4 linked regions of the Homo sapiens genome follow. The protein of the gene in region 2 interacts with the protein of the main gene of each other region in a biochemical or structural test. Each region holds a gene or a part of one and is shown on either strand. Other genes may lie near its edges. The genes, in order: PEX5, PEX26, PEX6 and PEX1.

The links.
Region 1: the proteins of PEX26 (region 2) and PEX5 form a complex in vitro, tested with the Homo sapiens proteins (one study listed by BioGRID).
Region 3: the proteins of PEX26 (region 2) and PEX6 form a complex in vitro, tested with the Homo sapiens proteins (one study listed by BioGRID).
Region 4: the proteins of PEX26 (region 2) and PEX1 form a complex in vitro, tested with the Homo sapiens proteins (one study listed by BioGRID).

The regions. Positions count from the first base shown.
Region 1 is NC_000012.12:7,206,667-7,211,971, reverse strand, and holds the end of PEX5 (peroxisomal biogenesis factor 5), read right to left. Parts: intron 4,314-5,305; coding exon 4,170-4,313; intron 3,963-4,169; coding exon 3,892-3,962; intron 3,516-3,891; coding exon 3,303-3,515; intron 2,968-3,302; coding exon 2,802-2,967; intron 2,290-2,801; coding exon 2,132-2,289; intron 1,951-2,131; coding exon 1,749-1,950; 3' UTR 513-1,748; downstream 1-512.
Region 2 is NC_000022.11:18,073,321-18,080,997, forward strand, and holds the start of PEX26 (peroxisome assembly protein 26), read left to right. Parts: upstream 1-4,669; 5' UTR 4,670-5,056; coding exon 5,057-5,286; intron 5,287-6,553; coding exon 6,554-6,694; intron 6,695-7,677. UniProt on the Homo sapiens protein: Peroxisomal docking factor that anchors PEX1 and PEX6 to peroxisome membranes. PEX26 is therefore required for the formation of the PEX1-PEX6 AAA ATPase complex, a complex that mediates the extraction of the PEX5 receptor from peroxisomal membrane.
Region 3 is NC_000006.12:42,963,346-42,969,193, reverse strand, and holds the end of PEX6 (peroxisome biogenesis factor 6), read left to right. Parts: intron 1-208; coding exon 209-320; intron 321-695; coding exon 696-904; intron 905-1,630; coding exon 1,631-1,826; intron 1,827-2,335; coding exon 2,336-2,412; intron 2,413-2,536; coding exon 2,537-2,669; exon of another isoform or gene 2,670-2,690; intron 2,691-2,746; coding exon 2,747-2,952; intron 2,953-3,088; coding exon 3,089-3,150; intron 3,151-3,404; coding exon 3,405-3,513; intron 3,514-3,825; coding exon 3,826-3,942; intron 3,943-4,041; coding exon 4,042-4,119; intron 4,120-4,264; coding exon 4,265-4,404; intron 4,405-4,722; coding exon 4,723-4,859; 3' UTR 4,860-5,329; downstream 5,330-5,848. Other genes in the region: GNMT (glycine N-methyltransferase), read right to left, coding at 5,488-5,659, 5,745-5,848; CNPY3-GNMT (Glycine N-methyltransferase-like isoform 1 precursor), read right to left, coding at 5,488-5,659, 5,745-5,848. UniProt on the Homo sapiens protein: Component of the PEX1-PEX6 AAA ATPase complex, a protein dislocase complex that mediates the ATP-dependent extraction of the PEX5 receptor from peroxisomal membranes, an essential step for PEX5 recycling.
Region 4 is NC_000007.14:92,511,491-92,518,521, reverse strand, and holds part of PEX1 (peroxisomal ATPase PEX1), read left to right. Parts: intron 1-266; coding exon 267-381; intron 382-479; coding exon 480-1,246; intron 1,247-4,554; coding exon 4,555-4,674; intron 4,675-6,818; coding exon 6,819-6,942; intron 6,943-7,031. UniProt on the Homo sapiens protein: Component of the PEX1-PEX6 AAA ATPase complex, a protein dislocase complex that mediates the ATP-dependent extraction of the PEX5 receptor from peroxisomal membranes, an essential step for PEX5 recycling.

The sequences.
Region 1 (5,305 bases), on a different chromosome or scaffold from region 2:
AACAAAAAAAAAAAAATTTTTTTTCCAAGTCTAATGTGCCCACAAACATCTATCTCCAAGTATAAATATTTGTGTATATTTTTAAATTTTTCCTCAGGATAAATACCCATCTTGATATGGCACTTGATACAGTTCCCGATAAAGGCAGGCAGAGCCAGATGAAAAGCTTTAGAAACCCTAAGCACTGAAAAACTATCAAAATCCTTCCATGTAATTCATAATACAAAACAACCTAACAATTATATGGCACTGCACACTTTCCTTTGTAGTAGTAACAGGAGTAAAAATTCATGATTATCGACATCTCTTTCTCCTGCTAGCCCAGAGGCCCAGAGAACAGGGACCCTGTCTCCTGTGCTCTATCATTTTTAGAGGGATGAGCAGGTAACCAATATACCAGTGAGAATTTGAAAGGCAGAAACTGTTGAATCCCAGTCCTCCAAACGCCAACTCACCTTCTGCCATCCCAGCTTCATGACCAGCAGAACTCATACCCACATCAGTTCCATTTATTCTTCGTACAAATATTTTACAGTTTTATTTTTAAATCATTTACACATATTCATACAAAGAAAAATAAATTTCAGGATGGAATCCTGGGACCATGGTAGTTTAAAAAAAAAATCTCTCTGATCATTAGCTACTAAAGACAAGGCAAGAGGCTTAGCAGTCATTTCTGGGGGTTAGTGTATCTCCCCATGCAGGGGACAACTGAGAAGAATCCAAGCTGCTCCCTCATCTTCCTTCGATCTAGATGGGGGAAGGGGATTTTCCAATGCTCTCCCCTAGAAACATTTCAAGAAGTACAGCAAAGGCTTATGGTAACACTGAACCTATTTGCTAGAAATCTGGCAAGATTGCACTTTCTGAACCAATTTTCTATAACAGTTGGCTCAATTCCCATTCACAGGTGCTTCTAAGAGGATGAGGGATTGCCGCACTCACCATACCCCCTTCCCACTTGCTCTGTCCTCCCACCAACGTTCCTGAATAGAGCCCTTGATCTCTTCTGATCTAGTCCCTCCCCGCTCCCACCCAGCCTCATTTCACAAGCAAACCTTCCTCCTATGCCACACACCCAGACACTCTGTAGCAATTGGCCCTGGCAGCTCCTGAGGACCGCTGCAGTGATGACACAGGACTATTGCATCAGCATCGTGCTCACAGGGAATCAGAGCTCAGCCAGGAGAGGTCCAAGAATGACAGAACCATGAGCACTCCTACCAAAACTCAGCTCTGCTCAGCCAAATCAACAATTCAACCCAACAGGCCAACTCCTAACACATCCCATCCAGACAGACATTAGAGGCGCACAGCAGATGAACCTCCTACTTACACTGCCCAAGGAAGCTGGACTATCAATTCCCAGTAAAAGTGGGGGAAAGGACAGACATTACAGATGTGGTAGACCCTATCAGAAATGGCAGCTGATGATAACAGTTACCCTAAATCGTGGGGTCCTACCCAAAAAGCAGCACCAAGAAAGGGCATGATGAGCAGAGAGATCTGTAGCTGGATGTACAGCCCTTGAATTACCAAGGGACTCAGAGATGACACAGCTCATTTTCCTACAATTATGTAGGAACTAGAACACAGACTACCCACCCCTACGTTGAGGCAGCTCCTGAAAGGCCGTACCGCTTATGGTCATCAGCCCGCCCCCTTGGTAGGCCCATTTGGGGAGAGGGAATCACATCCAAAGCGGGGATCCCTCCAGGTGGACACTCACAGGGCAGCCCGTCCCACTGTCACTGGGGCAGGCCAAACATAGTTAGGAGGGTGGACAGATCCCGCGCGTCGGCTGCCCCATAGGCATCGCTCTGGCCTAACATAGACAATGCCAAACGCAGGGTGCTCCAGATGTTCTCCGACATGGCACCTCCTTCACCCCGGGGGCCCCGGCTTTTCCTCTGCATGTTCAGGGCCTCCAGAAAGTGCTCCACAGCCTCCCTGTAAGGAAGAAGAGGAATGAGAGCTGTTAAGCTGAACAACAATGGAAGGAAGCAGGTCAGCTAGCAGTGGGAGGGAGAAAGCTAGGGCTGGTTAGTCAAACAGGATCTAAGAATAAGGAGCTAGGGCCAAAGGCAGGGAGAAAAAGCTCATTCATTCATTTCTCAATAGATACTCTCACCGGTGAGCCCCGAGGTTGATGCAGCTGATGCCCAGGTTATAGCGGGACCGGATATAGCCAGGCTGGAGCTCGAGGGCCCGGCGGTACGCAGCTACTGCTTCTTCACTCTGGTTTCCATTGGCCAGGGTGGCGCCTAGCTTATTCCACAGCAAATAGTCCTGGGATAGGGATGCAGAACGGATGGGAACAGCTTGACTCAGCTCAAACTCTGCACATTACTCCACCGACTCAGCTCAAACTCTGCACATTACTCCAGCTGTTTCACTACTCTGTTAGCTAACATGTTTCGTCCCATTCCATTCTCAACAGTTCGGTGTGTGGCTACAATGTAGCCCCTCTCACCCTATGCAGACTCTCTTATGTCCAGATGACCCTACACTCCCAGCCTTCTTTTCCCAGTCCTCCCAAGGCAGTCAGTACATGGAACACTGGAATGAAATACCCCAAGACTCCAAAAGTCTGAACAAATTATTCTTTTTTGTGGGGGTGGGCAGGGTCTTGCTATGTTGCCCAGGCTGGATTTGAACTCCCAGGCTCAAGTGATCCTCCCACTTCAGCCTCCCAAGTAGCTGGGACTACAGGCATGCACCATCAAACCCAGCTTCCCAACAAATGGCTCTTCAATAAGGTACACAGTCATGTCCCATTTCCATTCCTCCCCTGGGCTCACATTGGGACGAACGCTGAGGGCAGCTGTGAAGCAGTCCACGGCCTTGTCATACTCCCCACTCAGGTTGAAAAGGACTCCCAAGCCACACTGCACATCAGGGTCAATGGAGGTAGGGTCCAGCCGCACAGCTGCCAGGAAGAGCTCTTTCACTTCAAGAAACAGGGAGCTGGATGAAAAGGAAAAAAACACAAAGTAGGTAGATGAATGTCTCTATTCCCATCCCCCCAAATTAATTTCTTCATTGATCAACCATATCCCCAACATTCATCAATCTATCAGTCATCTCTTCTACTCTCAAAGTCCAATATAGAAGCCTGTTTTTCTATTTCATCCTAGCACTGAACTGTAGAATGCAGACCTCCTTCAACTTGATCCTAGGTTTCCCATCCCATTCTCAGGACCCTTCAGTCTCAATCCATCCAAACTTCCAAAACCAAGGTCACCCTCCTACTGGGACTTAGGTTACTGTAATTCCTCATCCTAGGAACCCCTCATACTCACTCAGACAAGAGAGATCCCAGGATACGCTTGCTGGGGCCCAGTCCTGCCCCACCAGCCCCTTCTTCAGCAGGTGTCACCAGATGGGCATAGGCTGGTGTGTACCGCAGCCAGTCTCGTAGGGTTTCACAGGCCTGTCGCTGCAGGGACTCGTTGGTGAAGCTCACAGCCAGCGCCATCAGTGCTGTCTGGTTATCTGGCTTTAGCTCCAGACACCTGTTTGATCAGGGATGGGCAGACTTGATATCTGCAATGACTGACACTGGCACATGTGAGCACCCTGGGATCCAAGCCAAGCTTTGAAATGCAGAGTCACAATGGCCTCACCTGTGACTCCTCTGACATGAGTTAATAATAAAGTTACAGATCTAAGGGGAAGGTTTTAGCAGGCAAGGAGCCAACCAAAGCCGCAAATAAAATCAAAAGCCGATGAAGGAATGGAATTCACTCCAACCCTCAGAGTTTCAGCATGAGAAAACACTCTTGATAGCACTCAGAAAGAAGACAAGGATCCAGGTCTGGGCTTCTGTCATTCAAAAGGTTATATGCAGAGCCTTGGAAGCACCTCACCCACACCTTTCAGTGTACTCACCTCCGCAATGCACTGATGGCTAATAGTTCTTGTTCATTCTCTGCCTGGGTGGTACCCAGATACTGCCAAGCCTAGAGGGAAGTTGACAGATTCCATCACCCCATATTCACCTCTCCATTCGCCCTTCCCCCTGGCTTCTCCCACTCACCATCTCGCTCTCAAGCCCCTATCCTAGGCCATCACCCAGGCCCTAACCCATCTGCACTACTCTCCTTGGGGCCTTTCTCAAGATGGAGGAAGCAGTCTCTAGCCAGAAATGAGACTATGGAGTCACTCACTTCCATGTGCTTAGGATCCTGCTGCACAGCTGCCTCAAAAAGCAGCACAGCATTTGGCAGGTCCCCCTCCTGAAGGCGCCGCAGCCCTTCTTCAAAAGGCTGAGGGTGATCACGCAAGGGGTTCTCCTCCTCAAACTGGTACCCCTACAAGAAAAGCACGTGAGAGATGGACTGAGAGGTGGCACCGTCAGAACAGCAGGGATGTGAGGATGACAACCAGCAGGCAGAGAAGCTGAGGGCCTCCAAACAGGTTCCGGAATTAATTGCTGGCAAATTCTCCATATTATAAAGATCATGTATGACACAAGTAAAATCATTTGGTATCAGGTTTGTGCTCCCATCTCCTGTTCATGATACCTGGGAAGCTAGGAAAGTCTACAAATTCATCTGCGCTGGAAATAAGCTTATTTTAGGAAGTCATCACAGGCTTGTATTCCCACACCTTGACTTCTCACCACGGGGCAGAATGTCTCAACAGGATCTGCTTATAGTAATGAGACAAAGTGTCCCTAGCTATGCAAAGTGCATTTCTTGTTATCCTTCAATAATGTGATGATGTATAAAGGAAATGTTGTTTGGAGTCCTGCTATTCAAATATAACTCTTACTTAGCTCAGAGTCATTCCACATGTCAACTAGATAAAACATTTTCAAGCATTTTGAAAATGTTAATTTATTCCCCGATTTCATTCTTAATAATCATGAATATTAATCTGTATCTGACAGTAAGCAAAAGCTGGATCCCAAAATCCAGATGGCAGAGAATACTTCAGAAAGACACCATTCTCTTCCAGCTGAGGATTTCTCACTTTAGAGAAGAGTTACGATACTATCTGCAAAGCTTTGTCAACTGGCATTTTACACTAGGCAGAGAAGAAATGAGGTAAAGGGGAAGTCACTAGTAAGCTGCAAAATCTGGGACATGCAAATAAAAAGTCCGTTTTTGGAGAGTAGTTACCATCATAAAATAATACACCAGAACGAAAACAAGATGCAAAACAACAGGTGGAGGTCTTTCTAAATGCAGTTAAGAATAAATTCAGATAAAACTGTACAAAATAAAGACATGAGGCCCTTTTTCATTATTATTGTGAAAATGATAAAGAATCAAAAACACTTAAATCTTACCAGCAAAAT
Region 2 (7,677 bases):
CTCCAGCCTGAGCAACACAGAGAGACCCTGTCTTAAATAAATAAATAAATAAATAAACAAATAAATAAAGCACTCAGAAAAGCACCTAGTGCATAGTTAATATCATACCATATAAATTGAGCCATCACTATTATTGTTGTAAAGTACTATACAGGATGATTATGATGGTCACTTCTTAGATACAGAAGCAGAGTTCTGCTGTGTCTACAAGGAGAGGAACACTATAGGAAGCATTGAGTTCTGCCCTGAACTCCTAGTCCAGGCTTTAAAAAAGAGCCATAAAAATGCCATCCCACTGATGAGCCTCTGGAGCAAGGGAGGTGTGCCTTGACCATCCTGGAAAAACATCATCTCCACCCTACCTATACTTATCTCCTTGGCTCGCTTCTGGCCAAAGGTCCACACTTGGTCTGAACCTATTGCATGCAGAGCTTTGCCACAGATGTCCCTGTACTGAGGGGCTCTGGCTGGTTGGGATGTTCGAAGGGACAGCTGTGGATGCTGTTTATTGGCCTGAAATGTGGAACCAGTGTGGAGAAGGCAAGACAGGCTAGGTTGACGTCAGATGTAGGCTTTTCATTTTTATTTTTTGAGAAAGGGTCTTGCTCTGTCACCCAGGCTTGAAGGATTGAGTGCAGTGGCGCATCATAGTTTACTGCAGCCTTGAACTCCTGGGCTCAAGCGATCCTCCTGCCTTAGCCTCTCAAGTAGCTGGGACTATAGGCACGTGCCACCATGACCAGCTAATTAGAAAACATTTTTCAATAGAGATGGGGTCTTGCTATGCTGCCCAGGCTGGTCTCAAAGTCCTAGGCTCAAGTGATCCTCCTGCCTTGGCCTCCCAAAGTGCTAGGATTACAGGCATGAGTCACTGTGCCCAGCCAGATGTGGGCATTTTTGATTTTTGCATGGAAGAGTCAATAATTGGATTCCAGGGCTGGGCACGGTGGCTCACACCTGTAGTCCCAGCACTTTGGGAGGCTGAGGCAGGTGGATGGCTTGAGGTCAGGAGTTTGAGACCAGCCTGGAGAACATGGAGAAATCCTGTCTCTACTAAGAATACAAAAATGAGCTGGGCATGGTGGCATGCAACTGTAATCCCAGCTACTCGGGTGGCTGAGGCAGGAGAATCACTTGAGCCCGGGAGGCAGAGGCTGTGAGTGAGCCGAGATCGCACCACTGCACTCCAGCCTAGGCGACAAAGCGAGACCCTGTCTCAAAAAAAAAAAAAAAAAAAGAATTGGATTCTAGGTCAGAAAGTAATATTACAGAACTTCGGAGTGCTATGAGATTCTTTCTTCTTCTTTTTTTTAAATTGAGGCAGAGTCTTGGTCTGTTGCCCAGGGTGGAGTGCAGTGGCCCAATCTTGGCTCACTGCAACTGCGGAGGCCTCCCAGATTCAAGACATTCTCATGCCTCAGCCTCCTGAACAGCTGGGACTACAGGTGGACACCACCATGCCTGCCTAACTTTTGTACTTTTAGTATAGATGGTTTTTCACCATGTTGGCCAAGCTAGTCTTGAACTCCTGGCCTCAAGTGATCTGCCCACCTCGGCCCCCTAAAGTGCTGGAATTACAGGCATGAGCCACCGCGCTGGGCTGAGATTCTTTCTTCTTTCTTGCCTTACATCAGCCTGAACGAGTCCAGTGATTGACAAGTGTTCAATGGGCTGTCACATGGTTTCTTCTGCTCTTCACAGCCACCCTATGCAGCAGGTGTTAGTATTAGTGTCCTCAGATGAGACAACTGAGGCACAAAGAAGTATGGTGACTTTCTAGAGGTCACCTGGCTTTGTCACTGAAGGAACCAGGATTCTTTTTTATTTTTTAAAAATTTTTATTTATTTTATTTGAGGCAAGGTCTCACTCTGTCGCCCAGGCTGGAGTGTAGTGGTGTATCTCAGCTTACTGCAGCCTCGACCTCCTGGGCTCAACCCATCCTCTCACCTCAGCCTTCTGCGCAGCTGAGACTATAGGCGTGCTCCACCACGCCTGGCTAATTTTTGTAGAGACAGGGTTTCACCATGTTGCCCAGGCTGGTCTTGAATGCCTGAGCTCAAGCAATCCTCCTGCCTTGGCCTCCCAAAGTGCTGGGATTACAGGCATGAACCACTGTGCCCCACCTGAAGGAACCAGGATTCTAGCCATGCCTCTCATCTCCAGTCCAGTGTGCTTTCTGCTACAAAAACAACAACTCATCCCCTGCTACAGCAGGCTGAGCAAATCTGCCTCCTCAGGCAAGGAGCCACACTGAGCCCTCTGCCAAATGGAAGGAACAACCCCAAGTTCCAGAGCCTAGGTAGGGCTAGGGAAGGGGTTGTAACGAGGATACTGGCATCTCAGGTGCTCTGCCAGTTTTCCCAAAATAAAACTATTCAAACAATACAAATATTAATATGGGCCTGGCCTTATACATCTGAAAGGACTGTCCTTATTTCCACTGTGTTTTTTGTCTCAAAGATGAGGAAATGACAGAAGAGATGATTTCAAAGGCTGTCCCATGAGCTCCAACTTAGAGACAGAAGTTTGGCTAAGTAAAGACAATACGCATTTATGTTCCCCCAGAGGGAATGAATTCGCTTCTGTTTAGGATTTCTGTGTCTTCGCTTGAGAAAGTCTAAGTACTTGTAGACATAGAGGAGATGATGTGTCCCACTGGATGTGTGTTGAGGAATCCATTTGTGGGCATAATAGTGCTAAACAGTGGTTACATACGGACTGATATGAAGCCCGGGAATAGTTGAAAATTGGGTGAATCAGAAATGGAATACAATCATATTTTTATATGGTTTCTAGCTCTCCTCTCTCCTGCCTTAAATATCTTGACCTCATTCTGGCTGTCTCACTACTAAATAGGCAAATTTACTTTTAGCAAGGCTGCTTCTGTTAAGACTGTGCCTCCATCTCCTGGACAAATTTGGAATAGCAAGAAATTTGTTAGGAAAGGGACTTTTCCAGGCAGCAGCCGCTTAGAGCTGGCCGCTTCTGAGCATGTTCGTCTTCCCAGGCCTGGCTCACATTTTCAGTGCTTAATGCGCATGGCGCTTTATGCGCAATATTACTTAATTCTTCCCTCAGCCATTGGGAGCTAAGGACAAACTGTTATCCCAATTTTACAGGTGAGGAAATCAGAGCTTATTTAAATAAATTGCCGAGGTCACACAACTAGTAAGCGACAAAATCTCAGTCAAACCGAGGCTCTTTTGGTTCAAAGATGTGTATTGAGCTCTACTCTGCTCTGCAGGGACAGAACTAAGTATGTTTGCTATTCAGGGGATACACAGTCATTCCATGAGCAAGTTACACAATGTAAAATAAGGACATTGTGAAAAACAAAACCATACCGTACATAATGCACTTTATAGTAAAGTACTGGGAACAGAGTATTTGGTAAATTGTAACTATAATAATAATTTTAAACAGATCCACAAATCACACTTATTATTATATTCTGTTTCACCCGGGCTTTGCCAAGCTTCCCACATTTGTACTAGATCCTCTTGGCTTTAGTTTCTCCCCAGTTCTCTACCCTTTGAATTCACTCCAAAGCTTCCCTAGAATCTTTGCTCTCCTAGAAATTAGATTAAACAGGCACCTGCTCACATCATACATCCCCTGCCCTTGTCACCAGACATGCACACATCCATCTTCTGGGATTTCCGTTCTCTTGCAGAAAAGTCTGCATGGGAAGCTGAGGCAGAACCAAGTCCACCAGACTCCGAGGAAAGAGAAGTCTGGACCCTGTAACCAGATAAAAGTGAAACCAGGACTTCATTTATTCCACAAATACTTTTTGACTACCTATAGATGACAGGCACTGTTCAAGGCATTGAGGTTCCCACAGTGAACAAAAGAGACAAAAACGTCTGCCTTTGTGAGTTTATATCATAGTGGAAGGAAATAGACAATAAAAATAAGTAAAATATAGACATTGGTATGTAGATGGTGATAAATGATAAGGAGAAATATAAAGACAGATCGGAAGTGACAACAGTGGGGAAGTGGAATTGGTATCTGCATTTAACGTTGTTTTTTAACAGCAAATTCAGGATGGGGCAGAGAGCAGTGAGAAAAATGAGGCCCTTATGCTCAGCGCCCCCAACCCCGCCTCGGTGGGGTCACTATTCATTTTGGAACATTGCCCTTGGGACCAACATATTCTCAGTGGTCCTTGTGAAGGTTTCCACCCTAAGTCCCTCATCCTCACCAGGCAATATTCATTACCCTACAGCAAACTCCGGAGGCAACGCGGAGAAAGTGTGAATCAATTCAAGACTAAGGTTGCCAAAATGTTTGATCAGCTCTGCGTCAGCCTTGACATTACATTACATTACAGATCCCCTGATCGCCACCGTCGCAGAAGCTCTGAATTAAAAGCGTGCATGTAGCTGCACATCCATTGCTGGCACTTCTTCCGTTAGCCTCCGCTGGAACTGGTTAGTGAGGACCCCTCCATTTCACAAGACAGCTTCGGTTTTGCTTCGTTTTGACTTCCGCACCCCGAAGCTGTAGCACCAGTTTGTTTTCTCACGGCACAGGGGCGGCTTCCGGGGCGCGGCGTGCTGGGGGTTGTAGTCCGCGCTCTGCCTCCTACTTCCATTACAGAAGGCGATGGGCCGAGAGCTGAGGAACTACAACTCCTAGAGTACTCCGCGCCGCCGGGACGCCGCGCGGCTGCGGGGCTGGGCGAGCGCAAAGATGTCCGCGCCCGCTGCCGGGAGGCGAGGTGAGTCTTTGATCGTAACCAGGAGCCCGGAGCTGAGGCAGTTCCTGCACGTGTCGCGGGGCCGGAGAAGCTAGGGCCAGGTATTCCAGGGATGCAAGAATCCTGCAAATCTGACGTGTAAACTGCTTCCCCAGCCTCCAGGCGAGCCCAGCTTTTGCCTCAGATAGGCCCCTTCCTTTTCCTTCTCGGGGAATCGACCTCGGGAAGGGGTGTGGGCAAAGAGATGAGGACTCTCCCTCTTCGCCCAGGCCAACTCGGGATATCCCGGAGCCTCTGGGGAGGCGGTCACTCCGACGTCTGAGGACCTGGGCCTTGGACCCGGACTCGTTATGAAGAGCGATTCTTCGACCTCTGCAGCCCCCCTCAGGGGGCTCGGGGGACCCCTGCGCAGCAGCGAGCCGGTGCGCGCGGTCCCGGCCCGGGCGCCGGCCGTGGACCTTCTGGAGGAGGCGGCCGACCTCCTGGTGGTGCACCTGGACTTCCGGGCGGCGCTGGAGACCTGCGAGCGGGCCTGGCAGAGTCTGGCCAACCACGCCGTGGCAGAGGAACCCGCGGGCACGTACGTGCTGGGCTCGGAAATGAACCGATTTCCGGGCGCTCTTGTGGTGGGGCTCAAGGTCTCAGGAGTTCTGTCCTTCCCAGATTGCCCACAAGGAGCTTTACACCTCGCTTTCATCAGTGGTTTGTCTCCGAGAGGGTGGTCGCTCATCGTGTGCCCATTCTACAGAGAAGGGAAGTCGTGTAACAAAAACTTAGTGGGGATCCCACAGCCAATTATTTGCTCCTTGTTCCAAGGTACAATGACATGATGGGAAGGCTGAATGTGTATTAAGTGCTAAGTTCTGTCAGTAAGCAGGTGGTAAAAGTCCTCTCCCAGGTACCTCCGCCCTCCCCGCCCCGCCCAAGGTTGTTTATTCCTGACCTTGGCTGATGATGGGGAATGGGGGTCATGGCAGGAGCAGCGTTCTGGTCCAATTAGAGGACTGGATTAAAGAATTAATTCAGGGCCGGGAGCTGGGGCTTACGCCTGTAATCCCAGCACTTTGGGAGGCCGAGGCAGGAGGATTGCTTGAGCCCAGGAGTTCGAGACCAGCCTGGGTAACATAATGAGCCCTCTTCTCTACCAAAAAGAAGAAAAAGAAAAGAATCCGGAGAAAAAAACCTTGGGCTTGCATTGCTCTTTCTAATGCCACCAGCCTCGTCTGGCAGGTGAGGGAGTCATTTCTTTGCATTGTAAACTTGGGTTAGGCCACGCTAGGGAGGTGGTAGGTAGAATAGCTAAAGTTGACCACAAAGAAGGATGATCTGGAGAGCCCTGGCTGTGTTTTAGGGGACTGGGTGGGAGCTCATTTCAGTGAATGCAGAAGGCTTTGCTTCTGGGTGTCTGGAGGAACCTTACTAGGTGGTGCCTTTTAGCCAGCTATGGAGTCTATACCTCCACTCAGCCAGAAACCTTGCTCCAAGCCCATTTGTTCACAGAGCAAACTCTTAGTTCCAGCTCTCTTTTCAGCCACACACCGGTGCTGTGTGTTATTTCCCCCTCAGGATTACCCTTCCTCTTCATTTAAATCTGATTTCACCTGGATACAAAGATGAACGTTGAGCAACAGCTGACTTGCCTCTTGAAAGAGGGTTACAGGAACTTTTAGTTCCTGGGGGAAAGGGCAGCCCATGAGACCAATTGTGAAGCCCATCTAAATACTAACAGGGATGAGAGAGATGATGGCTGCTGAGTTGGGAGCTGGAGAGGAACAGTCCCAAGGTGGAGGTGGGAATGGAAATGGAGGGGAACCACTTCTAACTGAAATTGGTTTTTCTGCTGACAGCTCATTGGAGGTGAAGTGCTCCCTGTGTGTTGTGGGGATCCAGGCCCTGGCAGAAATGGATCGGTGGCAAGAAGTCCTCTCCTGGGTCCTTCAGTATTACCAGGTCCCTGAAAAGCTACCCCCCAAAGTCCTGGAGCTGTGGTAAGTCTTCTTTGCTGACTCATCAGATCGGTTCAGAAACGAGAGGATTTTCATCTCCTCTCCTAAATACCTACTCTTTTCCCCTTCCCTACTATTGCCCTCCAGATCGGATTCTTTCCCTTCACTTTTTTTTCCCCAGACTTCCATACATAGCAATAAAGAATAAGGGGGAGGAATTTAGGAGTAGAATAGATATAAAGAAGGGAGGAAACAGGGAATAGGAGCGACGTGGGATGACAGAGTGGACAGAGCTGAAAGAGCAGCTTGCTACGTCCTAGGAATTCCTAATTCTTAAAAAAAAATTTTGTTTTGTTTTGTTTTGTTTTGTTTTTTGAGACGGAGTCTCGCCCTGTCGCCCAGGTTGGAGTGCAGTGGCACAGTCTCTGCTCACTGCAAGCTCCACCTCCCGGGTTCACACCATTCTCCTGCCTCAGCCTCCCGAGTAGCTGGGACTACAGGCGCCTGCCACCACGCCCGGCTAATTTTTTTGTGTTTTAAGTAGAGACAGGGTTTTACCGTGTTAGCCAGGATGGTCTCAATCTCCTGACCTCGTGATCCACCTGCCTCGGCATCCCAAAGTGCTGGGATTACAGATGTGAGCCATCGCCCCTGGCCAAAAAATAACAAAGTTTTTAAAATTGACACTTGTACATATTTATGGGGTAAATTAGACATTTCAATATATGCTGTGTATATGTTGTATAATGATCAAATCAGGGTAGTTAGCATATCCATCACCTCATGCATTTATCATTTGTTTGTGACAGGAACATTCAAAAGCCTCTCTTCCGGCTATTTTATATATACAATACCTTACTGTTAACCATAACCACCCTACCGTGCAATAGAACACCACAACTTATTCCTCCTATCCCACCGTAACTTTGTACCCATTGACGAACCTCTTCCCGTCTTCCTTTTCTTCCTTCCTTTCCCAGTCTCTGGTAACCACCGTTCTACCGTCTGCTTCTATGATATCAACT
Region 3 (5,848 bases), on a different chromosome or scaffold from region 2:
TGGATATGCTGGATGCCCCGGCCAGAGCACCGCAGGTGGTGTGGGAGACACAGCCTCACTACATGGGGACAGCCCTGTCCTGGGGTCAGGGAGGCTCAAGGAGAGAAAAACAGGGTATCTGCTTTCTAGATCTAAGGGATCTTGTGTTACTGGGGACTCTAATGTTTGGGCAAAATGAAGGAGACGAATGTCTGTTCTCTGGTTGCAGGGGTGCCCTGCTGACAGGAACTAGCAGTGTCCTTCTACGGGGCCCCCCAGGCTGTGGGAAGACCACAGTAGTTGCTGCTGCCTGTAGTCACCTTGGGCTCCACTTACTGAAGGTGAGGGTCTCTGGAGAGTAGAACCCCAGCTACTTCCCCTCCCCAGCTCATGTTCTCCCTCTCTGCTGCTTCCTCTCCCCTCCCTCCTCTGTCTACTCACAGGCCCTAGCACTTCAGCCCAGTGGGTCAGGCATATTCCCATGATGCTGAGCTATGGAGAGGTACTTTCAAGGAGGAGGGAGTTGCAAGATATTGGTGGACAGTCCAGGGAATGGGATAGGGTAAAAAAGAGGTAGGACTTGGCCAGGGTACCTTCCCTGTCCCTGCCCTCCAGAGAAAAAGATGGCCCACATCTTCCACCTCCTCCTCCCCTGATTCTCCTGCCCTTGTCATGCTTTCCCCTTGCTCACAGACCCATTGGGATCCCCTCCCCAGGTGCCCTGCTCCAGCCTCTGTGCAGAAAGTAGTGGGGCTGTGGAGACAAAACTGCAGGCCATCTTCTCCCGGGCCCGCCGTTGCCGGCCTGCAGTCCTGTTGCTCACAGCTGTGGACCTTCTGGGCCGGGACCGTGATGGGCTGGGTGAGGATGCCCGTGTGATGGCTGTGCTGCGTCACCTCCTCCTCAATGAGGACCCCCTCAACAGGTACTTATACAGAGCTGGGCCTCTCAAAGCTGGGGGGGCCGGCTGGGCGCGGTGGCTCACACTTATAATCCCAGCACATTGGGAGGCCGAGGCAGGTGGATCACCTGCCTTGATCAGGAGTTCAAGACCAGCCTGGCCAACATGGTGAAACCCTGTCTCTACTAAAAATACAAAAATTAGCTGGGTGTGGTGGCGGGTGCCTGTAATCCAGGCTACTTGGGAGGCTGAGGCAGGAGAATCACTTGAGCCCAGGAGGCGGAGGTTGCAGTGAGCCAAAATCATACCATTGCACTCCAGCCTGGGCGACAAGAGCAAGACTCAGTCTTAAAAAAAAAAAAAAAAGGGGGAGCGGGGGGGCCAGCCCTCCTACTTTTCAGCCTTTCAGTCCTCCCTTCTCTCACCCCTCAGTGGCTTCTCAGTCATCTCCCATCCATTTGGCTGCCCTCTAGACAGCCCTGAGCTCCGTGTCTTTAGAGGGATCCAGAGGGAGGAGTCTGTGGTCTAGCATTTCTTGGGGAACACTCGGTTAAAGAAAAAGCCTCTGCCCTCAATGTGATGGGGGAAACACAGTTCCCCCATCTAGGAACTGGGGTAGATGCTCATCTCCCTACCCCATCCTAGCACCCACCTCACTTCCCTGCCCTTCTGTGCCGACTTTGGGACAAGGCAGTCCACAGGAGCTGCCAGCCATGTTCTCACCCTCAGTGCCCACTCCTCTGTCTGCAGCTGCCCTCCCCTCATGGTTGTGGCCACCACAAGCCGGGCCCAGGACCTGCCTGCTGATGTGCAGACAGCATTTCCTCATGAGCTCGAGGTGCCTGCTCTGTCAGAGGGGCAGCGGCTCAGCATCCTGCGGGCCCTCACTGCCCACCTTCCCCTGGGCCAGGAGGTGAACTTGGCACAGCTAGCACGGCGGTGTGCAGTGAGTATCAAGGGAGAGTACTGGCCCTCCCTAGGAGGTCCCTGGCTTTTGTTACAAGAACTCAGTCCTGTTGCCTTGTGAGTGAGAGTAGAAAACCCAGCGCGGGCGCCGTGGCTCACGCCTGTAATCCTAGCACTTTGGGAGGCCGAGGTGGGCGGATCACCTGAGGTTGGGAGTTTGAGACCAGCCTGGCCAACATGGAGAAACCCCGTCTCTACTAAAAATACAAAGTTAGCCAGGTGTGGTGGCACATGCCTGTAATCCCAGCTACTTGGGAGGCTGAGGTGAGATAATCGCTTGAACCCGGGTGGAAGTTGCGGTGAGCCGAGATCGCGCCATTGCACTCCAGCCTGAGCAACAAGAGCAAAACTCCGTCTCAAAAAAAAAAAAAAAAAAAAAACAACAAACCTAAGGCATCAACAGAGGGCCTCTGCTCTAGCTGGGGGACGGTCCCTGAAGGTTCCTGCCTACTGTGCCCTGCTCATGTGTCCTTTCCTGTGGTTCCCTAGGGCTTTGTGGTAGGGGATCTCTATGCCCTTCTGACCCACAGCAGCCGGGCAGCCTGCACCAGGATCAAGAACTCAGGGTAAGAGGACGTGGGCACCGGAAAGGCGGAAAGAGGAAATGGATGTAGATGGGTGGGTGGTGAGGAAGGGAGAAGGGAATGGGACGCTGATGGTGAGGAGGCTTCCCTGTGTTCCTCTTTGCAGTTTGGCAGGTGGCTTGACTGAGGAGGATGAGGGGGAGCTGTGTGCTGCCGGCTTTCCTCTCCTGGCTGAGGACTTTGGGCAGGCACTGGAGCAACTGCAGACAGCTCACTCCCAGGCCGTTGGAGCCCCCAAGGTGGAGACCAAGTCCTTGGAGGTGGGACAGGAGCCCCTCCAAGAGCATATCCCAACCACGCACTTTCCATCTCCTAGATCCCCTCAGTGTCCTGGCATGATGTGGGTGGGCTGCAGGAGGTGAAGAAGGAGATCCTGGAGACCATTCAGCTCCCCCTGGAGCACCCTGAGCTACTGAGCCTGGGCCTGAGACGCTCAGGCCTTCTGCTCCATGGGCCCCCTGGCACCGGCAAGACCCTTCTGGCCAAGGCAGTAGCCACTGAGTGCAGCCTTACCTTCCTCAGGTGGCCAGGGGGCCTGGAAGGGATGGTGGGTGGATCAGGGGCTGCAGCAGGCTGGGGAGCAGGAGGGGCTGCCCAAGAGGTCAATTGTGTGTATGTGCATCTGACGGCTCTCACCTTCTCACATCCTCTCACTCAGCGTGAAGGGGCCAGAGCTCATTAACATGTATGTGGGCCAAAGTGAGGAGAATGTGCGGGAAGGTGAGTGAGCAGGGAGGGGCAGGGCGTCCCATGCTTCCCAAACCCCGATGGCCCCCAAGCCACCCCCTACTCCCAGGCTACTCATGATCATTCCTAATCCTCCTTTCTACAAGTCAGGTTCCTGCCCAGCTGGGTCTAGTACCTGGGATGCCAGTGCTGTATTGTCAGGCCCCAGTTTCCCTCCCTGCTCTCACCTAACTTCAACCCCCCACAAGCCGAGCTTTGCCCTCCTGTGGGCCCCTCTCTCTCTTCAGTGTTTGCCAGGGCCAGGGCTGCAGCTCCATGCATTATCTTCTTTGATGAACTGGACTCTTTGGCCCCAAGCCGGGGGCGAAGTGGAGATTCTGGAGGAGTGATGGACAGGTAGGGGTCTGAGTGGGAATGAAAGCTGAGGGGTCCAGGGTGGGAAGGATATGAGAAAGCTCACAGCAGTCTTCAGAGTCCAGAGATAGAAGTTCCTGCTGTTTCAGTTCTGAGATAATATAATGGAAGCTGAAAGGGGCCATGAAATTGGGCAGGGTCCACTGAGGAGAATGGGGGCCTACCTGGTGGGGCACATTGGGCACAGCTGAGTGGAGGGCCCTGTTGAGACTGCCTGTAAAGAGAGGTACCACAGGCAGGGGCAGAGTCTAAGGGGGACACCAAGGACTCTTGCCCTTGCTCCCTTCTCTCCAGGGTGGTGTCTCAGCTCCTTGCCGAGCTAGATGGGCTGCACAGCACTCAGGATGTGTTTGTGATTGGAGCCACCAACAGACCAGATCTCCTGGACCCTGCCCTTCTGCGGCCTGGCAGGTGGGCCCCTTGTACTGCTCATCTCCACCCTCATTTTGTGCCTCCTTCACCCCTCATGGCTGGGCTCCCTGAAACTTATACCTGCCTATCTCCCTAAAGATTTGACAAGCTGGTGTTTGTGGGGGCAAATGAGGACCGGGCCTCCCAGCTACGCGTTCTAAGTGCCATCACACGCAAGTATGCTCTGTTAGAGGAAGACTGCGAAGGGCTTGGGCCTTGGGATGCTTAGGGGATGCATGCAACATGCAGGATGAGCTGGTCAGCACTGGCTTTCGAGGGAGGAGGTGATGCCAACTCTGTTTCTTCCTGTATCCCACAACAGATTCAAGCTAGAGCCATCTGTGAGCCTGGTAAACGTGCTAGATTGCTGCCCTCCCCAGCTGACGGGCGCGGACCTCTACTCTCTCTGCTCTGATGCTATGACAGCTGCCCTCAAACGCAGGGTTCATGACCTGGAGGAAGGTGAGCCACTTGCCGGTCTGAGAGGTCAACCAAAAAGCTAGTGGGGAGCTGGGTGCACCTGAGTCCCAGCTACTTGAGAGGCTGAGGTGGGAGGATCGCTTGAGCCCAGGAGTTTGAGGCCAGCCTGGGCAACACAGAGAGACCCCAACTCTAAAAAAAATGTTTAAGGGAAAAAAAAAACTAGTGGGAGACAAACCTAGTCCTGGATTCCAGAGGGAAGATCATTGACATCTAGGAGACCCTGAGCAGGAAGCCACCTTCGCAGGGCTCTCCCCTGCCTGGGCATAGACCACAGCCTCCCCACCTTGTCATCTCCAGGGCTGGAGCCAGGTAGCTCAGCACTGATGCTCACCATGGAGGACTTGCTGCAGGCTGCCGCCCGGCTGCAACCCTCAGTCAGTGAGCAGGAGCTGCTCCGGTACAAGCGCATCCAGCGCAAGTTTGCTGCCTGCTAGGAGCCCCCCAGGGTCTGGGACCCCGCTCAGCATGGCTGCAGGTACCTTGATAGCCCACAGAGAGATCTGGGAAGGAAGGGCTCCTCCTCAGGCTGCTGCCAACCCACCTGGAGGCCACCTCCCTCCAGGAGATCCCAGGGTGCAAAGTGGCATTGAGACAGCAGCAACAGCTCAAGAGATATCTCCTGCCTACTTGCCCCTCCTTCCAGGCCGGCTCTAAGAGAAAGGCCCATCTACTCAGGAAGAGGGCCAGGGCCTTGGGTTCTGGGGATTGGGCCCTGAGAGGGCTAGTTCTGTGGCTGAAAATAAAGCATGTCCCGCCCCCTACTGGTGTTGTGGCATGAAAGGTTGGAGTGAGAAAGAGCAGGGTTGTGGGAGGAGTAAGCCCTGGGAGAGGGTGGGGGGGTGGGCAGCATGGGAGCCTGATCCTTCTGACATAAATAAACACAATGCATGCAGGAACTGAAAAAGACTATATTGTTTACCCTTCCGTCTGTGGAACCCACATCCCTGCACCCCAGCTGTAGTCTGCTCTAGAGGCTGGCCCTGGTGTGGGGCTGCTGGTCCCCATCTTCCAGACAGAGCCTAGCAGTGCCTGGGCAGAGGCTTGTGGGAGCTGAGGCCACACTCAGTCTGTCCTCTTGAGCACGTGGATGAAGTAGCAGGGAATGTAGGTTTGGCCTGGCTTGTAAGGCTTGAAGTCGCCCAGGACGCTGTGCTGGCACTTACCTCCGAAGGCTGCTTGGAGCAGCTCCGTGAAGGATGCCAGACAGTGTGGGTAGTAGGAGAGCCGGAACTTACTGTAACAGAGGCCCCAGCAACCATGAGGACTGGTGACCTCAGCTCCCCCAACTACCGCCTCACCCCCACTAAGCCAAGTGGTACCTCAAGCCAGGAGAGCCATCCTGGCCAGCCCCCGGCACCTGCACCGTATAGTCCAGGGTCACCATGTGGGCCTTGTTGTTCACTATCAGCACTGATGTTGTGAC
Region 4 (7,031 bases), on a different chromosome or scaffold from region 2:
TATTGGGGATTCATGTTAAATGAGTAGATTTTAACTACTCTTACCACAAAAACACAAAAGTGGGTAACTGTGAGATGATGTATATGTTAATTTACTTCACTATAGTAACCATTATACTATCTATATGTAGCTCATAACACCATGTCGTGTATATTAAATATGCACATTAAAATTTGTTTTTTAAAAAAAGAATTGAGATTTTTTTTAACTAGATATGGAGTGGACAAAATGTAAAGTGAATTGATCTTTTCGTCTGTTGGTTCTAGGAGCTGCATGCTGTTTCCCTTGAACAACATCTTCTAGATCAAATTCGAATAGTTTTTCCAAAAGCCATTTTTCCTGTTTGGGTTGATCAACAAACGTACATATTTATCCAAATTGGTAGGTGCTATTGTAATATTTGCTGTCATATTCTACACTATAGCATTGAGTCCAAAGTAGAAATGAATGTGCACTAATGAGCTTTATTTTCTACACAGTTGCACTAATACCAGCTGCCTCTTATGGAAGGCTGGAAACTGACACCAAACTCCTTATTCAGCCAAAGACACGCCGAGCCAAAGAGAATACATTTTCAAAAGCTGATGCTGAATATAAAAAACTTCATAGTTATGGAAGAGACCAGAAAGGAATGATGAAAGAACTTCAAACCAAGCAACTTCAGTCAAATACTGTGGGAATCACTGAATCTAATGAAAACGAGTCAGAGATTCCAGTTGACTCATCATCAGTAGCAAGTTTATGGACTATGATAGGAAGCATTTTTTCCTTTCAATCTGAGAAGAAACAAGAGACATCTTGGGGTTTAACTGAAATCAATGCATTCAAAAATATGCAGTCAAAGGTTGTTCCTCTAGACAATATTTTCAGAGTATGCAAATCTCAACCTCCTAGTATATATAACGCGTCAGCAACCTCTGTTTTTCATAAACACTGTGCCATTCATGTATTTCCATGGGACCAGGAATATTTTGATGTAGAGCCCAGCTTTACTGTGACATATGGAAAGCTAGTTAAGCTACTTTCTCCAAAGCAACAGCAAAGTAAAACAAAACAAAATGTGTTATCACCTGAAAAAGAGAAGCAGATGTCAGAGCCACTAGATCAAAAAAAAATTAGGTCAGATCATAATGAAGAAGATGAGAAGGCCTGTGTGCTACAAGTAGTCTGGAATGGACTTGAAGAATTGAACAATGCCATCAAATATACCAAAAATGTAGAAGTTCTCCATCTTGGGAAAGTCTGGGTTAGTATAAATTTTATAACTTGGGAGAAATTTTATGTGGCTTAAACATCCCCAAATTATGAATTAGAATAGTATTTCATATATAAATTGAAAATCAATTAAAAAGAAACACAGTGCCTAAAGGCACTTGGGGGACACATTTACGCTTTGCAGTAAAGTCCTTGTTTGGATAAAGATTGTATGTTTTCTGGCCAAGTAAGCTTGAATAGGTACAAGCTTAGATAGGTTCAGGCCAGAGAGGTCAAAATTACTTGCCTGAGATTGCATAGCTAGTGTTACAACTAGGATTCAAACCCAGGCAGATTGACTTGGGGGTTCATCAGGATGGAGTGCCCTACAAAGCCTCCCATCTTTAATGCTTGCAGATTTGTTCCCCAGTTACCGAAAGCAACTTGTTAATATTAGGGAAAAGGGCCAGTGTAGGGAGAGATCCATGGCATGAGGTAACCTTCCTGCTGCATGTGGTGGCACCTGGATTGGAATGCATCCAGGAGCTGCTTACCCTGCCGGTGTCTGCTCTTTAATTTGTGTATAACGGAGAGGAAGTAGACAGGGCAACTAGTGCTCCAGCCCCTCATCCTGGCCACAAATATTAATGCTACCTTTATATGACATAAGTCACTAGTCCATTTATTGGAACCTAAATTTGAACCACTGTAAAGTAAGACTTCATAGTGATAAAGAGAGGAACTTGTTAGGAAAGAGAATAAAATAGAAAGAGAAGGTTGTCTCCTTTTGTAGATTTTTTTTTTTTCTCCAACAGTTTTACCTGTGACCTTTATACAAATAACTGACAAAGCATTAATCTCTTTGGCCTACATCATTTTCTTTTCTATTTTTTTTTTCCACAAGATGGAGTTTCACTCTTCTTGCCCAAGCTGGAGTGCAGTGGCATGATCTGGCTCACTGCAACCTCCGCCTCCCACGTTCAAGTGGTTCTCCTGCCTCAGCCTCCTGAGTAGCTGGGACTACAGGCATGCACCACCACGCCTGGCTAATTTTTTGTATTTTTAGTAGAAACTGGGTTTCACCATGTTAGCCAGCCTGGTCTGGAACTCCTGACCTCAGGTGATCTGCCTGCCTCGGCCTCCCAAAGTGCTGGGATTACAGGCATGAGCCACTGCTCCTGGCCGGCCTACATCATTTTCTAAAGCTCCAGACCATTCTTTTCTTTTCTTTTCTTTTCTTTTCTTTTCTTTTCTTTTCTTTTCTTTTCTTTTTTCTCTTCTCTTCTCTTCTCTTCTCTTCTCTTCTCTTCTCTTCTCTTTTCTTTTCTTTTTTTGAGTTAGAAGCTTGCTTTGTTGCCCAGGCTGGAGTGCAGTGGCACCACCTCCACTCACTACAACCTCCACCTCCCAGGTTCAAATGATTCTCCTGCCTCAGCCTTCAGAGTAGCTGGGACTACAAGTGTGCGCCACCACTCCTGGCTAATTTTTGTATTTTTAGTAGGGACGAGGTTTCACCATGTTGGCCAGGCTAGTCTTGAACTCCTGGTCTCAAGTGATCCGCCTGCCTCAGTCTCCCAAGGTGCTGGGATTACAGGCGTGAGCCACTGTGCCTGGCCTCAGATCATTATTTTCTGTTAGCTTTAAACTGTCCGTTCAGGAGATCCCACTGCATCCTCAAATTCAAAATATCTAACACTGAGCTTATGATTTAGCTGGTTCTGTCATTAGATGGGAATATCCTTTTATTTCCTTGAAATTATATGGTGAGAACAGGGAGAAGTGCTGATGGTAAAGTCCTGTGATTAAGATAGCAATAAGGACTCCGCCCTTCCCACTCCACTGAAGGTTGAAGAGCCATGGACAATGAGAAGTCACAGTAGGTGAAATCAGGTACTAAAATGGACTTGGCTTGAGAGATCAAAATTGATCACTTGGTGATACAACTAACAAATTCATGTTAACTTGAACCTTTATTACCCTGTGAAGCATGGTGATTAAAAAAAAACAACAAACAAACAGGAAACTTGATTGTTAAATTCTCTTTAAGTCAGAATATGTACCTTAGAGTTTTTATTTATGCTTTTGTCTACCATTAATATGTCTGCACCTGCTCTTTAGAAGTTAATAGAGAGTAAAGTCGTCTTTATGTCTTTCAGTGCTTACTTATATTTGGGAAGTTGAGAAAAATTTTTAACATCATTATTGATATATATATATATATATATATATATATATATATATATATATATATATATATATAGATAATTTTTTTTTTTTTCTTGAGACGGAGTCTCACTCTGTCGCCCAGGCCGGAGTGTGGTGGCGATCTCCACTCAATGCAAGCTCTGCCTCCCAGGTTCAAGCGATTCTCTTGCCTCAGCCTCCCGAGTAGCTAGGATACAGGCTCCCACCACCACGCCTGGCTAATTTTTGTAGTTTTAGTAGAGACGAGGTTTCACCATATTGGCCACGCTGGTCTCAAACTCCTGACCTTGTGATCCGCCCACCTCGGCCTCCCAAAGTGCTGGGATTACAGGCGTGAGCCACTGCGCCCGGCTGAGGTAAAATTTAAAGTGTACAATTCAGTCATTTTTAGTATATTTATACTAGTTGTACAGCCATCACCACAATCTAAGTTTAGAACATTTTCATTAGGGGGTGGGAGAAATTTTACTCTGCTTTTTAGATTAAGTTTCTGTCTGGATCTAATCATTTAATCAGACAATCAGGCAGATTGTCTGTGATTAGTTTTGGCCATTCCAGCTTCTTCATTGGTTGTTAACTTTCACAAATAAAGGCTGCTCAAAGATTAGAAATAACATTTAATTTGAATGTAAATGTGCCATAGTTTAAAAGATGGGTTTGGTGAATACAGTCAAATACATACATTTAAAGCTCTAATTCTGAAGATTATGTAAAGAAAAGGAAAGAAATGTAGGGAGAGGATTGAAATGTTCATGGTATAACAATATCTGAACATCCATCTGGTCACACCGTTGGTATTTGAATGTTTTGTCCTCCTCAAATTCATATGTCGAAATCCCAACTCCCAAGGTGATCGTATTAGGAGGTGTGGTCTTTGGGAAGTGATTAGGTCATGAAGGTGAAGCCTTCATGAATGGGATTCGTGCTCTTATAAAAGAGAACTGTGAGAAATAAGTTTCTGTCGTTTGTTAGCCACCCAGTTTAGGATATTTTGATATAGCAGCCTGCATGGACTGAGACAACTATGAGTTATTATGATAGCTTCTGTTATTTCACCTAAATTCATAGAAGCTAATATATCAATATTTATGCTATGAAATATTTCTTAACCAAGCTTTGAATATATTTATATTTTTGTTTATTTTTAAATTTCAGATTCCAGATGACCTGAGGAAGAGACTAAATATAGAAATGCATGCCGTAGTCAGGATAACTCCAGTGGAAGTTACCCCTAAAATTCCAAGATCTCTAAAGTTACAACCTAGAGAGAATTTAGTGAGTTCAAATATATATGTTACATCAAAATTCTTTTACACGTTTTGTAAGATTTCTAGTTGCTTTAGCTAAGTAATAAGAATGTTGTATTCCTTTTTGATACAAATCTTTTTTTATTGTGTTAAACTATATATAACATAAAATATGCCATGTTCGCCATTTTTAAGTGTATAATTCAAAGGCATTAATTACATTCATAATATTGTACAACCATCACCACTATCTATATCCAGAACTTTTCCATCACCCCAAAGAGAAACTTGGTACCCATTAAACAATAATTCCCCGTCCACTCCTTTCCCCAGTCCCTGGTAATCTCTAATGTATATTGTGTCTCTATGAATTTACTTATTCTAGATATTTCATATATAAGTAGAAGTATGCATTTGTCTTATGTATCTGACTTATTTCATTTAACATAATGTTTTCAAGGCTCATCTGTGTTGTATGTATCAGAATGTTATTCCTTTTCATGGCTGAATACTATTCCATTGACTGCATATACCACATTTGTTTATCCATTCATCTGTTGATGGACACTTGGGTTGTTTCCACATTTTTGGCTGCTGTGAATAATGCTACAGTGAACATTGGTGTACAAGTATCTGTTTGAGTTCCTCTTTTCAGCTCCTTTGGGATATACCTAGGAATTATGTTTAACTTTTTGAGAAGCTGAGAAATCTTTAATAAATGATAACACAAATACTTATATTTGCCAATGCAAATATGAATATTTTTGGCTTTTAAGAGATTGATCATTTTGCCACGTGGTTGTAATTAAAAAAAATTGTCCCATGTTGTTTCAGTATTAATATTGTAGCCTAAAAGAGTGCTAGACTGTTTTACTTTTTACTCAGTTAATTCTTTGGATACTGGTAGAGTCAGGAAATGAGATATTGAACTTAAAGATCTTTGCAGGTGGGGTCCAGTGGCTCACACCTGTAATCCTAGCACTTTGGGAAGCTGAGGTGGGAGGATTGCTTGAGGCCAAGAGTTTGAGAATAGCCTGGGCAACATAGCAAGACCCCATCTCTACAAAAAAATTAAAAAAAAAATTAAGCCAGGCGTGGTAGCTCACGCCTGTTATCCCAACACTTCGGGAGGCTGAGATGGGTGGATCACTTGAGGTCAGGAGTTGGAGACCAGCCTGGCCAACATGGTGAAACCCCATCTCTACTAAAAATACCAAAATTATCGGGGCGTGGTGCTAATCCTGTAATCTCAGCTACTCAGGAGGCTGAGGCAGGAGAACCACTTGAACTGAGGAGGTGGAAGTTGCAGTGAGCCTAGATCTCACCACTGCACTCCAGCCTGGGTAACAGAGCGAGACTCTATTTCAAAAAAAGTAAAAATAAAAATTAGACACATGTGGTGGCACATGCCTGTAGTCCTAGCTACTCAGGAGGCTGACTGAAGTGGGAGGATCTCTTGAGCCCAGGAGTTCCACACTGCAGTGAGCTATGATTGTGCCACTGCACTCCAGCCTAGGCAATATCTCAAAAAAAATTTTTTTAAATAGATTATTAGGCCAGACGTGGTGGCTCATGCCAGTAATCCCAGCACTTTGGAAGGCCAAGGCAGGCGGATCACCTGAGGCCAGGAGTTTGAGACCAGCCTGGCCAACATGGTGAAACCCCATGTCTACCAAAAATACAAAAATTAGCTGCAATGTCTATAATCCCAGCTACTTGGGAGCCTGAGGCAAGCGAATCGCTTGAACCCGGGAGGCAGAGGTTGCAGTGAGTGGAGACTGCGCCACTGCACTCCAGCCTGGGCGATACAGCGAGATTCTGTCTCAAAGAAAAAGGAATTTGTTTTCCTGTCTTTATCGTAGAGGGAGGAAAGGGAGAATGGGGTTGGAATGGTTATTGAGTGAGCCACATTATGGTAGATGTATCACTGGGCATAGAGAAAAGGAGCATTTAAAACTTTTCCGCCTAACAGATGTTTCTTCAGGCTACACTGCACTCATTGTGCTAACTGTAATGTCAAATCCCAGACCTGTGCCTATAGAACATGAACATCCTTCATTGGATTTGTTTGGTCAGGCTTACACTTTATTAGGAAGATCAGATGTTAAAATAAGGGTGTTAAAGTTAAGTTCAGATATGAGGATAATTCATTACTATTCCTTTTTCTGGCAGCCTAAAGACATAAGTGAAGAAGACATAAAAACTGTATTTTATTCATGGCTACAGCAGTCTACTACCACCATGCTTCCTTTGGTAATATCAGAGGAAGAATTTATTAAGCTGGAAACTAAAGATGGTGAGTACATTTGTTATTTTGACTTTTTTTTCTATTTAAATAGTTGTACATTTTTAATTGTTCTTGCAACCTGTCATACCTGTGAACAG